Homo sapiens: one gene and its partner. The protein of the gene in region 1 interacts with the protein of each later gene in a pairwise test. Each region holds a gene or a part of one and is shown on either strand. Other genes may lie near its edges.

Region 1 (3,549 bases):
CAAAAAATAAATTTTAGAAAATTGAAGGGCTATTTGTTCTTCCCCTCCCTAGCATTCTGTTCTTGTTTCATGTGTATATTATTTTATATATTTAGACTGTCGATTATAATTTAATCTCATTCTTTTTCTGTTTGGTTTTTCTACATATTGGGGACTGTGTCCTTTTGCACTAAGTTTGTCAATGACCTAAAGATGGTTTATTTCTCACTCATGTAAAAGGCTAGAGTAGAGGCATGCAAGCTAGGGCCAGTTGGTGACTCTGCTGCAGATATTTTCAGATACCCAGTTCTCATTTCTGGGGTGAGACTCTGGCCTTGTAGTCCAAGATGAGGGTCTCTGAGTTCTAGCAGCAGAAGGGAAGAAAGGCTGAAGGCATGTACAGCTCTGTTAAGGAAGGTCCTTGTCATATGATGCTTCTACTGAATTATGTTTTCCAGAACCTGTTCTCCAGGCTTTGCCTAGCTGCAAAGAAGCCTAGCAAATATCTAAATTCTGGTTGTACGTGTTCCTGGCCAAAAAAAAAAAAAAAAAAAGTCCTATTACTGTGAAGGAAGGGAGGGCAGCTGCTGGGAGGCAGGAGGCCACCTCTTTCACAGAGGGTTTCCTCAAATGGCTGGTGATCTTTGACCACTAAGATTTAAAAGAGACATCACAAAGCTGATTGGGAGCTCCAGGTGCTTGGTGGGGCAGGTTGCAGTGTGGTCAAAGACAGCCTGCACACATTAGAGTATGTAGGTGTTTCCTCAGGGTCCATTGAGTCCTCCTCTTTCTGCCCCGTGTGTGTGCCAAGGGACCGGCATTCTGGGAGCCAAGCTGGGCAGCAGGACAGAGGTTCTCACTGTCTGGTATTGAGATTCCTTTTCATAGCCGCGTTACCAGTATACCACCTTCCTGCTGTCTGCTCCAGCCTGCCCCCAAGTCAAGGGCCTCTTTGGTTCCATTTTCCCAGAAAGGAGACCTCGTGATTGCTGAGGCCATCTGGACACATAGGGGCAGTGGACGGGGTGGGGAACATTTGACCTGACCTCCTTTATTCAGCCCCACCAGATAGCTCTAATTCCTGGTTCCATCAGTTCCTAGGTCTCTCCAGGCTCTGAGGGGCAGACCGGTCCCTTTTACATTGGCACCACTCTGCCAAATCAGTCATCACACTGCCACCCACCCTGAACCTTTGGGTTTATTGGTCCTTTTCCTGTCCTTTGCTTGTGTTGGAGTACTACCTGTCTTAGTCCCTTAGGGTTGGAGAAAGTAGGGATGTGTGTGGAGCCTGCCTTGCTGAGCCAGAGGTTTTGCACGTCTTTTCCTAGTGGAAAGTTTCTCCGTCTTTGGAGCAGCGGACTGACATTGTCAGCACCACTGTGTCTCCACCTTTTGCTCAGCATTGTCTGGGTCACACAAGTATGGGGTTTCCTGCTTTCAAGGGATTTGAATCTAGTTAGGGAGTTAAATGCAGCTCCAACAGCTAACCAATACCTATGGTCTGAATGTTTGTGTCTCCCCAAAATGTGTATGTTGAAACCTAATCATCCATGTGATATTAAGAGGTGAGGCCTCTGGGAGATGATGAGGTCATGAAGATGAAACCCTCTTACATGGAGTTAGTGGCCTTATAAAAGAGGTCCCTGAGAGCTGTCTTGTCCTTTCCACCATAAATTCTCGGCAGGAAAAAAGATGAACAAAGTGATCAGAACCTATTCAGGCCACAGTTGGTAGATTCCTAGTCAGAAACATAGGTTACATCTAAGGAATCATAGGTGATAGGAGGCGGCCAGATTCAGGAAGACATTCAAATATGTGTGGATGGATTTGGACTTGATGAAGTGGATGGCAGGGAACCACTGAGGAAGAGTGTGTTGATAAAAGTCATATTCGGGGAAGAGGCAGTAGTTGTGCTGGAGCTCGTGAAAACTCAAAATTTCAATTGTAAAATTTTCAGGAGTTTTGTGCCCTCGTTAATGTCACTTTGGTAGTTTGAAATCAGCTCTGGGAGGAATATTTACAGCATAGGAATAGGCAAATGCTACAAACAGGGGTCCACCTCCCCCGAGAGCTGGCTATTAAACATGTACCAGCACACCACTGTGTGCAGGACATGTCAAATGACAAACTTCATTTTAATGAGGCTCTGTTTCATGTTAGGCACCGTGCTGGGTGTGCTGCGGCTGAACCTGTTAACAGGGTCCAGGAATGTGTTAAAGCAGCTGTGAGTTGTGCAAATAGAAGAAAAAGCTCTGGAAGTACTTCCACAAAATGGATGGTTAGACTTGATGACGTTGTATATGATGAAGTTGTATATATAAGAGATCAAGGAAACAGAAGAAGGGAATGACTTGAAACTTCCTGGTCTGAGAAAAAAATTTAAACCAAGGAATAACTGGGAAAGAAATGTGTTACTTTCAATTTTGATTACTCATGGGAATGAGCAGGTAAGCAGGGCCTGTAGAAAACTGTTTCCAGCTGACAACTTGCTTCACAATTTCATTTGGGTATGAGAGCAGGGTTCAGGCGTGAGGTTCCAGCTGGTGATGTGAATGGGAGCTGAATCCATTCAGAAGGTATGGAGACAGTTGATGGGAACTTGCCTGGTGAATGCCCAGAGTTTAGAGATGGAAGGGAGGACCAAGGAAGGCTCATGACTTTCTGCCTGTGCTGCCATCTCCTGACACATTTTCTCCAGTTCTTCCATGTTCTTTTTTTTTTTTTTTTTTTTTTGAGACAGAGTCTCACTCTATCACCCAGGCTGGAGTGTACTGGCGCCATCTCGGCCTCACTACAACCTCCGCCTCCCAGGTTCAAGGGATTCTCCTGCCTCAGCCTCCCAAGTAGCTGAGATTACAAGCGCCTGCTACCACATCCAGCTCATTTTTTGTATTTTTAGTAGAGGTGGGGTTTCCATGTTGGCCAGGCTGATCTTGAACTCCTGACCTCAGGTGATCCGCCCGCCTCGGTCTCCCAAAGTGCTGGGATTCCAGGTGTGAGCCATCGTGTCCGGCCTTCCAGTTCTTCCATTCTACTTGCACCTTCCAAATGGAGTTCCAGGGAGTGCAGGCTCTGCCTTCATCCATTTTTTTTTGTTTTACTATTTTTTTTCTTGTTGTTGAGATATGATTCACATACCATAAAATGTGTGCTTTTAAAGTGTCCAATTCAGTGGTTTTTAGTATATTCACAAAGTTGTGCAGCCATTGCCACTATCTAATTCCAGAACATTTTCCTCACCCCGAAATGAAACTCACAATTCTTTGGCCTCAGATAGCCTCTGTTCTCCTTTGTTTCTATGGATTTGCCTATTCAGGACATATTTTGTAACTAGAATTGTCAAATATGTGTCATTTTGTGGCTGTCTTATTTCACTTAGCATGTTTTTGAGGTTTATCCATGTTGTAGCTTGTACAAACCTCATTCTTTTTTTGTTTTTTGTTTTTTATGAGACAGAGTCCCTGTTGCCCAGGCTGGAGTGCAGTGGCACGATCTCGGCTCACTGCAACCTCTGCCTCCCAGGTTCAAGCGATTCTCCTGCCTCAGCCTCCCAAGTAGCTGGGATTACAG
Region 2 (3,549 bases), on another chromosome or scaffold:
AAAAAATTACTAAAATAAAGGTGCGTGTGTGTGTATGCACATATATCTAAAGGGAGAGAGGGAGAAGGAAACTTACTAAATAAAATTTTTGCCACATGGGATTTAGTCTAATCAGTCTTGGTTTTGGAGTTGCTATCATCAGTAGTTCCATTTTGTGATTCTTTCTTTCTGCCTTCATGTGCCTTTGAAAACTGAAACTATGCCCAAATTAAAACAAGTTTTTCTGTCTTTTCACATGTTCACTTATTTCTTGAATGTGTTTTTAAACACAGACAAACTTCTTTTACATCATGTAGAATCTGAAGGTCGAGAAATTTGCAGTCATTTTGCTGGAGAGAGATGCTTGGCGGAGTCCCAGGCCACATTCCTAGGCCAAACTCTCGAAGGTATTCCTCTTATGCAACATTGGGAAAATACATCCAGCACCGACATGTTGGCTGATAATGTGTCTGAAGGCACAGACGATATGCTTATCATATGAAACATAAAGCCAGCAGATATTGCAGACATTCTGTTGAATGATAGAATCTGGATCATTTACATTTACTTAAATGTAAAATACTATGATTAAGTACAAAAAAATCAATTTAGGAGAGAATAGAGAGTTGCGGGCACGGTTTTAGGGGATGACTTATCAGCAGATTGTAGAAAGGAAGCTTGAATGTTTTAAATTAACTGCAAGTTCAGTATAAGCCAGTGGTGTGACAAGAGGCTGTTATCATAGCTACTGAAATTTTGGGCTGCACTGCTAGAAATATAATACTGAAATGGAGAAGCTAATAATTCTTCACTTTTTAAATAGACTGTATCTAGAATATTATCATCAGTTCAAGGAAATGAAATAAGTTGTTTTAGGTACATCATCGATAAATTAGTGTACATTCAAATCACTGTGACCAGGATGCATAGGGAATTTGAAAGCATTGCATGTGAGCAATGGTTGAGGGGACTTGGAATGCATGACTTAGGGACAAGAAAACTTAGGCTGGAATGGCAAGTGGTTTTTGAATGTTGGGTTGAGAAGAATTCTAAAACTGTGAAGGATTAGTAAAAATAACATTCAGATTGCTAATGCCTACTGTGGCTGGGAGATTAGAGTGTCAACATGTGTGATGTATTTTTGACATCCTTATTTTGAGGATGGGCTTCAAAGATTTGACGAACTGTCATAAGTGTAATTTGTGTTGCTTCAGACAGCAGTTCTAGAACCAATGATGTAAATTTAGATACTCTACATGGTAGTTAGAAAACTTTCCATTAATTTAATTTAGCAAATATTGAATGCTCACTGCATACAGAGCACTTTATTAGAGGAATATATAATAAAGAAAAAAGAGGTCTGGTGTGGTGGCTCATGCCTGTAATCCCAGCACTCTGGGAGGCTGAGGTGGGAGGATCACTTGAGCCCAGGAGATCATTACGAGTCTGGACAACATAGCAAGACCCCATCTTTACAAAAGACAAAAAAAATTATCCAAGCCTGGTGACAGGCACTTGTAGTCCCAGCTACTTGGGAGGCTGAGGCAGTAGGATCGTTTGAGCCCAGGAGGTTGGGGCTGCAGTGAGCCGTGATTGTCCCACTGCTCTTCAGCCTGGGTGACAGAGTGAGACCCCGTTGGAGGGAAGGAAGGGAAGGAAGGAAGAAAGGTAGGAAGGCTGAAATGAAACCCTTTTAGAAATGACACTAAAATGGGAGGTTGGAGTAAGGTATTTTCTGAAGTGCCTTTGTACTTGTTTTTTTCTAATGCATTGGCCATAAGTCTGCTCCTTATTTATAGTCCATAAACAATCCTAATGAGAACAGTTATATATTTCTGCCTTTGAATCATCTACTTGAAGTGTTTAGCATCATGAATTGAGTATCAGAAATCCCTCCCATTTCTTTGCAAAGCGCTGTATTTTACTTTTCCTTATTTGTATACAGATTCTCAAAATTGGCTATTTTTCCTTTGGGTTAGACAGAACAGAATGTCTGGAAAAAAAAGTTCTTATCAAATTCAGGTGCCCAAATTGCTTAAGAAATTAACTTTTGAGGTTATATTTTTTTAGGGTTCAGTAGCTAAACTAAGAAAACTTCTCACCGTTCACCTTCACTTTTGGAAACCACAAAATCTTCAGATATTACAGTTTTCCAAAGAGTTTCTCTTTTTAAATATAAACTAAAAGGAATTGACTCCTCCCCCAACTCCCTCAGGCCTCAGCATGGATAGAGTTACTTTTTTTCTTTAATAATTTATTTATAACTTATTTTGCTCTTCTGTAGAACAGCTGGAGATTAAGCAACATGGCCATGACATAAAATGCAAGTTAGACCATAAGATGAGCAGCCCACTCCAAGTATGAATGAGTACTTATTCTTTGTGATCTCTCATACTGCTTTTAGGTATTAATAGTGTCAGTCAGCAAAGCAAACAGTTTAATATTTACATCTCCTTTAGGATATCATATAGTTTATAGTTTGTATGTGTTCTTGCGTGTATGTTTTCTTCTGTTTCAAATTCTTTTTTCTTAAAGTAAGAATGTTATATGTAGCAAATGGTTCTTTCATTAATTCATTTGTTAATTCACCGTGCATTAATTGAGTGCCCAGTGAGTGTCAGGCACTGGGCTACTTGGATTTCTTTTCCCTGTATTGATCCATATATCTTCAGGTGCTCCTTGATATGGCTCTCCATTGACTCTCTCATATAAGGCTTTCATTACCTATTCACATACTCCCTCCCAAAGAGGACTGGTCCAAAAGTAAAATCTTGAGCAAGTTCTCTGAGTTATTTCAGAACTTCTTGCCCCCAAACTGTATTTTTAATTATTGACTGGTAGCATTTTGGAATAACTTACCTCTCTTTTTTAAAGATTGAAGTTCTTTATCCTCTCTGATTTTCAGGTGTCAGTTTGTGTACAAATTGAGACAATAAAAATGTTTGTTAGACATTTTCTTAAAGCATTTTGCTATGTGAGAATCTTTCATGAAGAACTCTTTTTAACAATGACTCTATAGCAGAAGCCACAGTAGAGGGAGAACTACTGAATCAAAGATGGTGTTTGAGTCTATGATTTTATGATGGATTTTTTTTTTTTTTACATACAAGGATATGCATGGGTCTTTTAGTATTCAGGAATCTGTTCTTCACTTGACAGTATTTATAAATTGTGTGTTTCCCCCTAAAAAAACTTAAATTGTGAGAATGCTTCCATTTACTAGAAGTTGGTTAATGATTATGCCAAATAAGGAAAATAAGACAGAAAAATCAGTTTAGTGAATACTATTTTGCCTTTAAATTTAGTAATTTAGTAACAGTATCTCTTTGGGGTTTACTAGAAACCACTTTTTAATCCAATAGGTCTCTTTCATTGTGAAGTCAGGAGGTGATTTTGCTTAAATGTGTAGTATAGGAATCTATATGTGGTGTTCAAGGATCATGTAAATATGCTGATATAATCGGAGCACAGTTTGGCATCATTAACTCAGAAATATTTAAACTCTTGCTATACAACATGGAAGCAAACTTGTGCATAGTTTGTGTGTGTGTGTGTGTGTGAATCTCAAAA

Evidence for each region. The genes of interacting proteins can lie anywhere in the genome.
Region 2: the proteins of FKBP6 (region 1) and BDNF interact in binary tests that used the Homo sapiens proteins (3 or more experiments, as listed by UniProt).

What each region holds. Positions count from the first base shown.
Region 1 is NC_000007.14:73,334,620-73,338,168, forward strand, and holds part of FKBP6 (inactive peptidyl-prolyl cis-trans isomerase FKBP6), read left to right. Parts: intron 1-3,549. UniProt on the Homo sapiens protein: Has an essential role in spermatogenesis. It is required to repress transposable elements and prevent their mobilization, which is essential for the germline integrity.
Region 2 is NC_000011.10:27,690,430-27,693,978, reverse strand, and holds part of BDNF (neurotrophic factor BDNF precursor form isoform a preproprotein), read left to right. Parts: intron 1-2,838; exon of another isoform or gene 2,839-2,873; intron 2,874-3,549. UniProt on the Homo sapiens protein: Important signaling molecule that activates signaling cascades downstream of NTRK2. During development, promotes the survival and differentiation of selected neuronal populations of the peripheral and central nervous systems.